Homo sapiens: one gene and its partner. The protein of the gene in region 1 purifies or fractionates together with the protein of each later gene. This does not show direct contact. Each region holds a gene or a part of one and is shown in the gene's direction. Other genes may lie near its edges. The genes, in order: MAPK10 and RDX.

Region 1 (3,825 bases):
CGCCACCACGCCCAGCTAATTTTTGTATTTTTAGTAGAGATGGGGTTTCACCGTGGTAGCCAGGATCGTCTCGACCTCCTGACTTCGTGGTCTGCCTGCCTCGGCCTTCCAAAGTGCTGGGATTGCAGGTGTCAGCCACGACCACGCCCGGCTAACCCCAGCCCTTTCTAAGAGCAGAAAAATGGATAGATTTGATGAGAGAATCTTATGAGAATGGTACATGAATTTGGATGTAAAATCAGTTACAAATTAAAGAGGTCTTTAAAGCAATGAATAAATAAACACAGCCCTGTTAGGCTATTAGGAGGCCATTGGCAATGAGAAAAATTAAATATTGAATTAATGTATAAGTATTTCTGTATTTTTGTTATTCCTGTGCGGTACAGAGTTTTAATTTGAAAGTAATGATAATCAGTTTCTAGGATTGAGTTTCCCAGAAAAATGATTAATAGAAATAAAAAATTCTCAAGTTTAACTAGTGATTTTTCATATTTGTTCAGAAAATTAAAAGATATATTTATTGATGTAATTACCAAGAAAATACTTACAGGTAAAAAATTAATTGCTACATTTTAACTATAGTATGGTTAATATTACGTGAAAAATACATGAACGGCACTAGAAAAAATATGCCAATAATCACAGTCATTGCCTCTAGCTAGTGGGGTTAGATATTATTTCCTGATTTTTGTATTTTATATAATTTTCAAATTTGTAGAATTAGCCAAGTTGTTTTAATCTGAAAAATTGATTAAATAAAAATTGATATGTATCCAGAGTCATCTATGTTGATTTTTTGAAAAATCCATTTAAATTTTGTTATCTTTAATTTGATGTTTTACCATATAGTTAGAATAAACTGAATATTTTCACGGTTCAACTTTCAGATCAGTTGAGTAACAATATTGATTTGAGATATTCATTTCTGTTAAAACTTTATGTAAAAGACTAGGGGAGGGATAGCTTTAGGAGAAATACCTAATGTAGATGACAGGTTGGTGGGTGCAGCAAACCACTATGGCATGTGTATACCTATGTAACAAACCTGCATGTTGTGCACATGTATCCCAGAACTTAAAGTATAATAATTTAAAAAATTTACATATTTTTAGAGGTTAAAATTAATGTGTCTTTTAACAATCTTACTAAATAAATAGCTATCACCATATAATTTTATAACTGTTACTGCCCACAACCATAAAATTAATTATGATAACCTTTACATAATATAGAGTTTCTCATTAGTGTCTGGTGTAGCATTAGACTGGCTTCAGTCTTTAACTACTGGATTTCATCAAGTCATGATTCCATTGATTAAAAATACCTGATGATTACAGAATGTTAAAATAAAATTCAGTAGTTGAATGATATTATTTCTATCACTTCAATTCTTTGATTGTTTTTATGTATATAAGAAATTTGTGGCTGGGAGCAGTGGCTCACTCCTTTAATCCCAGCATTTTGGGAGGCTGAGGTGGGAGGATCTTTGAGCCCAGAGTTCGAGACCAGCTTGGGCAATGTAGGGAGATCTTATCTTTACAAAAAAAAAGAAAGAAAGAAAAAATAGCCAGGCATGGTGGTGCATGCCTGTAGTTCCAGTTACTCGGGAAGCTGGGATGGGAGGATCCTTTGAGCGCAGGAGTTCCAGGCTGCAGTGAGCTGTGATCATTCCACTACACTCCAGCCTGGCAACAGAGGGATACCCTGTCTCAAAAATAAATAAATAAATAAATAAACAAAAACAAAAAGAAAAGAAAAATTTGTATGATACAAACTCTTAAGTCAATTTATATACTAAAATTCTGATAATTCCGTTGTATAAATAAGAATATAGAGACACACGTGTTGATTAACTTCAAACAGCCGTCCACACATTTGTTGAACATCATGCATTTGCACTCTGTGCTCTTTATTCTGTTTATCCTATATTCATGCAGGTTACCAAAGAAGATGACTTTGCTTACATAAACTCTCCAGGTTGATACATTTTACTAAGAAGTTTGCGTGAATAATTATATACCCAAAGTGTTACAACCCTTGGAGAGCCTCAGAATGAAGCCTTAGGCTTAGAGACACAAAGAAACAGGTGTAAAATGCATTTTCTTTTCCATCACATCAAGGGATTTACCTGATGTTTGGAAGGAAGATACTATTCCATACTTTGTTTTCTTAAATTTCCTCTCTGACAAATTTCCTTACTGAAATCAAAATCTTACTAATTGTTTTTCTCATTTATTGTTTCAGCCAGCCAAGCCAGGGACTTGTTGTCAAAGATGCTAGTGATTGACCCAGCAAAAAGAATATCAGTGGACGACGCCTTACAGCATCCCTACATCAACGTCTGGTATGACCCAGCCGAAGTGGAGGCGGTAAGAAATAGGCTGCCTTTACTTTGCTTCCACAAACAAATCATAGCTCATAGCAAAAACTGAATAGGACTAGAAGCCTAAAGAATGCACAATGGATTTTTATAAAATTTCTAAGTCCAAAGCCTATTATCTGCCCCTCTAAAAGCTATTTTCTTCAACATATGTTTTAAATACATTTTTTTCAGGACTTACTAGAAGAGGGTATGATTTAGTCCTACAAACCTTAGATGTCCATGATACACTACCATTTGTTTCTGTTAAATTGCCAATACTTGTGTTTCTTCTTGTGTGTTTGACTGCCAGTCTCTTCTAATGCAAACTTAGTGGTAGGAAACAACAGAGGACAAGTTGCTTAGCTTGTATTTTTTTTTTGAAAAGATACCTGCCACTAGTAAAATGTGATACTTAAGAATATTTCAATTAGAAAGCTTTTATAAGATGATTAAAACGATTGGTGGCTTTGTGAAACCTTGCATGAACTAGATGAACTAGAAGTGGGTATTTCAGTAAGTACATTACTTCAGGTTGATCAGTATGATGTATCTCCATGTCTGATACCCAGACATGGAGAATCTTCTCAGAAGCATAACTCTTTCTATTTTAAAAATATTTTTCAACCATTTACTATCTTCTGTTCAACCTCTTTCTTTCATCTTTACCTCTCTCCTTTCCTCTGTATGGATCCAGGGCTGAGCAGGGCAAGGGGGGCTTGCTGTTGCCCATGTGTGTTCTATAGGCCTCCTGATGAGAATTTCCTTTCTGCACTGCCTTTAAATGTTTCTATCAGGAATGTTACCTTCTCCCTTAAACATGAGAAGCTTCTCAAATTCTTAGAGTACCTGTGCTAAAGCATCTCATATTTTTTTACATAATACCTTCCAATCCATTTGTTTGGATTTGTTCTTAATCTTTCATTTGAAATACTGTTTGTTTCCCCAAAGTATTCTTAAAGATATTTTCACTTTCTTTCAGTTTTCTTTCCTCTGCTTCACCATGTGTTTTTCCATGTCAGAGGTGCTAGATTCAAACACATAATTCTCATTTCTTCATTCTTCACTAGAGAAGATACGAAAGAAAGTGAGAACTAGGTAGAATTGAACTTTACAGACACAATATTAAACAGGTCCTTTTCATAATGTAACCCAATCTTTAAGCATTTAAAAACTTCAGAGAAAACACTTAAGTGATTAATGAATCTCCCAAGTGTGAAGACTGCACTACATTTTGTTTAAGATCTGCTCTCTTAGTTTTACAATGATGTTGAGATTTCATGTTGCCTCAAGTTAATTTTTAGTCATTTTATTTGATTCTTACCAAATAATATCCCTACAATTAAATATTTCTGAGTTTAATTATAATGTTCTAAAAATTAATATATATTCTTACAACCAAAATATAGAACCTCTTCCAGTCTCCCACACTTGGGAAATACTTGCACAGATGTTCTTGGGATGGA
Region 2 (3,825 bases), on another chromosome or scaffold:
AGATTATTTTAAGTCTCATGGCATTACTGATCCAGCTGAAGACTGTTCTGGTAACTTCCTTGATTGCTGCAGCCAGGGTGTGCGTACTGCTTTGATGATAGAGGTGTCCAATCTGGCCCCAGAGAGTTCCTCAATTTCTAGCCTATTTTAGAGAAATCCTGCCTTTCCTACTTTAAGTTCCTGGTGTATATCTTTATATTGAATGTATAGCTTAAGCCATTTAAAAAAAACTATAAAAGTGATATATTTTATGGCAAAGTTTAAAAACTCAGAAAAATGTCAAGGAAAAGGTCAAAGTCCTCCTTACTCCCTGGAACACCCCAGCCCCTTTCCCAGTCCTGTTTTCCATAGGTAGCTGCTGTCGGCAATTCCTTGTTTATAGAAAATGCCAGTAGGTATGCAGGGATAAACATATACTTTATATCCCTTATTTGTGATTTTAAAGTCTTGTTAAAATAGGGTTATATTGTAACAGACATTGAAAGGATGCTTATTAACTTGTGTTAAACATTGAGTAAATCATATTTCTCATGTTTTCATCATTTGAATAAAAGCACACAATAGAATTCCCTACGCTAATTCTCAAGTGTGTGTATGTGCAAATTTGTTTGTGTACAGATTTTCTTGATTAATGATTGAAGATGAAGTTTACTTTTTGTTTTCTAGCATATGGCATATAGTTGACAATGAGAAATGGTGTCTTTTAAAAAAGGAGGTTTATAATTTGGTGTGGGAAATAGCCACATCTTGCTCTTTACAAAAAAAGTTTGCCAACTCCTTAGAAAAAACATCCTGTTGAAAGGATATTTTAGATACAGTATTGAAGAAACAGGTACTTCATTGTTTATTTTCTCTAAGATTATAGAATTTATAAAGCTATTAGTAATTGAGATAATGGACTGTTTTCTTCTGAGTTGTAGATAATCTCTATGGCTTTCAGGACCTTAAATGTTTTTTTTTTTTAATTTATTTGTGAAAAGTTTAAGTCAACTAGGACTGACTGCAGGTAAATTTGTGAAGTGAGCGCTCTTCAGTTTTGAGCCCTTAGATCCTTTAAGATGCATTGGCATCAAATAGCAGAAAATTCTCCAACTGGTTTAAACAATGAGGAAATTTAATGTCATTTTTTTCTTCATTTTTTTTTGAAAACAGAGTCTTCCTCTGTCACCCAAGCTGGAGTGCAGTGGCACTATTACAGCTCACTGCAGCCTTGACCTCCTGGGCTCAAGTGATCCTTTAAGTTCCTCCCACATCAGTCTCCCTAGTAGCTGCCAACACAGGCGTGTGCCACCATGCCTAGCTAATTTTTTTTTTTTTTTTCCAAGACAGGGTCTCGCTCTGTTGCCCAGGCTGGAATGCAGTGGCATGATCTCAGCTCACTACAGCCTCTGCCTCCAGGGTTCAAGCGATTCTCCTGCCTCAGCTTCCCTAGTAGCTGGGATTTAAGGCACATGCCACCAGGCCCGGCTAATTTTTGTATTTTTAGTAGAGACAGGGTGTTACCATGTTGGCCAGGCTGGTCTCAAACTCCTGACCTCAAGTGATCTGCCCGCCTTGGCCTCCCAGTGTGCTGGGATTACAGGTGTGAACCACTGTGCCTGGCCAACAACTAATTTTTTAAAAAGCCTTTTTGTAGATACGGGGTATCCCTATGTTGCCCAGGCTGGTCTCAAATGATCATCCTGCCTCAGACTTCCTGCCTTGGACTTTCTGCCTCGGCCTCCTGAAGTGCTGGGAGGATTACAGGTGTGAGCCACCATGCCTGGCCAAAATTTAATGTCTTGCATACTAAAAGTCCAGAGGCTCAAGAATGGTTCAATAATGACATCAAGGACTCCTTCTCTTTCCAACTCTCTTCCCTGTGATTTTCCCTATTAACTTCATACTAAGACAGCCCTTACCCATCTCAATTTGGCTGCTGCAAAGGAGCCAGGAGCGGTGGTGTGGACCTGTAGTCCCAGCTACTCAGAATGCTGAGGTTGGGGTATCACTTGAGCCTGGGAGGTCAAGCCTGCAGTTAGCCCCTTGTCCCAGTTTGGCTGCTGCATCCCATCCAGACAGGGCAGTATCCAAAGGAATAAGAGGAACTGTTTCCAGAAACCCCCAAGCAGATGTCTTTCGAGCCTCATTGGCCAGGATTGGGGCACATTCTATACCTAACCAGTCAACTGGCAAGGGTAATGGAATTGCCCTTTCTTCCAACTCTGTTCCCAATAGATACTTCTTTTTTCTTTTTCCTTCCTCCCTCCGTCCCTCCCTTTTTCCCTGTCTCCCTCCTTCTCTCTGTCACTGTCACCTCTCTGCTGCTGGAGTACAGTGGCATGATCATAGCTCCATGCCACGAACTCCAGGGCTTTGAACTCCGGGGCTCAGGCAGTCCTCCCACCTCAGCCTCTGGAGTAGCTAAGACTACATGTGCACACCACCATGCTTGGCTGATTTTAATTTTTTTTAGAGATACAGTTTCACTATGTTGCCCAGGCTAGTCTCAAACTTCTGGCCTCAAGTGATCCTCCTGCCTCAGCCTCCTAAAGTGCAGGCAACTGCACCCAGCCCTGTTATTTTCATTATTCATCTATATTACATGTCTTCGGTCCTTTTTTTACCCCCACCCAAAGTCATATCCAAAATTGATCCATTACAGATAGTCATATGTAGTGAGCTCATATCTTTGTAGGTACCAACTTCAGTTAAATTATGAAAGGAAAAGTGTTGATTCTTGTTAAAATACTTGGCAAATTGTGGTCCATGGGCTAAACCCAGCCTACTGCCTGTTTTTATAAAGTTTTATTTGAACACATCGTAGCTGACTTGTTTACATATTATCTATGGCTGCTTTCCTGCTACAACAGTAGAATGGTTTCAACAGAGACTGTGTGGCTTACAAAGCTTATAATGTTTACTTACCTGGCCCTTTACGGAAAAAGTTTGCCGACCACTGCTTTAAGATGTCAGTCGTACATTTGGACAGTTATTATATGCCACATACTCTTTGCATTTGAGAATGGAAAGATGAGTAAAATACTCAGGAGTTCTCACTCTAATGGGCAGATAGATGTGCCATATTGTATTCATAAAGTGTGTTAAGTGCTTTTTTTTTTTTCTTTTTGAGACTGTCTCTGTTGCCCAGGCCAGAGTGCGGTGGCTTGATTATAGCTCACTGTGACCTTGACCTCCCAGGCTGAAGTGATCCCTCCACCTCAGTCTCCCAAGTAGCTGGAACTATAGGAGCTTGCCACCACTCCCGGCTTTTTTATTTTTTGTAGACACGGGGTCTCACCATGTTGCCCAGGCTGTCCTGGGTTCAAGTGATCCTCCCGCCTCAGCCTCCCAAAGTGCTGGGATTACAGGCGTGAGCCACCACACCTGGCCTGTTAAGTGTCACAGTAGTGTGTATAAGTTAATTAATACTCCTTGCAGCAGCATTTTAAGCACAGTATTCTGTGCTGTGAGTTCTGGATGTTTCTTGCTTCCTCTGTTTTTTTTTCTTTGTTAAATCTTCCTGTTGTTTTTGTAAATTGACTGATAATCTTTTAATAAGTTAACCAGAGTGGGTATTTTTGTTTATAACAAAAAATCCTGGTGAGTACATGGAATAATGTGGATGCATTAATGCAACGTAAGGACCCTTGTTTTTTTTTTTTTTTTTTTTTTTTTTGAGACAGTCTCACTTTGTCACCCAGGCTGGAGTGCAGTGGCATGATCTCAGCTCATTGCAGCCTCTGCCTCCTGGATTCATGCAATTCACCTGCCTCAGCGTCCCGAGTAGTTGGGACTACAGATGCACACCACCAAACAGGTCACCACGTCTGACTAATTTTTATA

Evidence for each region.
Region 2: the proteins of MAPK10 (region 1) and RDX purify together in Homo sapiens (affinity purification with mass spectrometry; one large-scale study listed by BioGRID and IntAct). This does not show direct contact.

What each region holds. Positions count from the first base shown.
Region 1 is NC_000004.12:86,062,810-86,066,634, reverse strand, and holds part of MAPK10 (mitogen-activated protein kinase 10), read left to right. Parts: intron 1-2,244; coding exon 2,245-2,369; intron 2,370-3,825. UniProt on the Homo sapiens protein: Serine/threonine-protein kinase involved in various processes such as neuronal proliferation, differentiation, migration and programmed cell death.
Region 2 is NC_000011.10:110,289,790-110,293,614, reverse strand, and holds part of RDX (radixin), read left to right. Parts: intron 1-3,825. UniProt on the Homo sapiens protein: Probably plays a crucial role in the binding of the barbed end of actin filaments to the plasma membrane.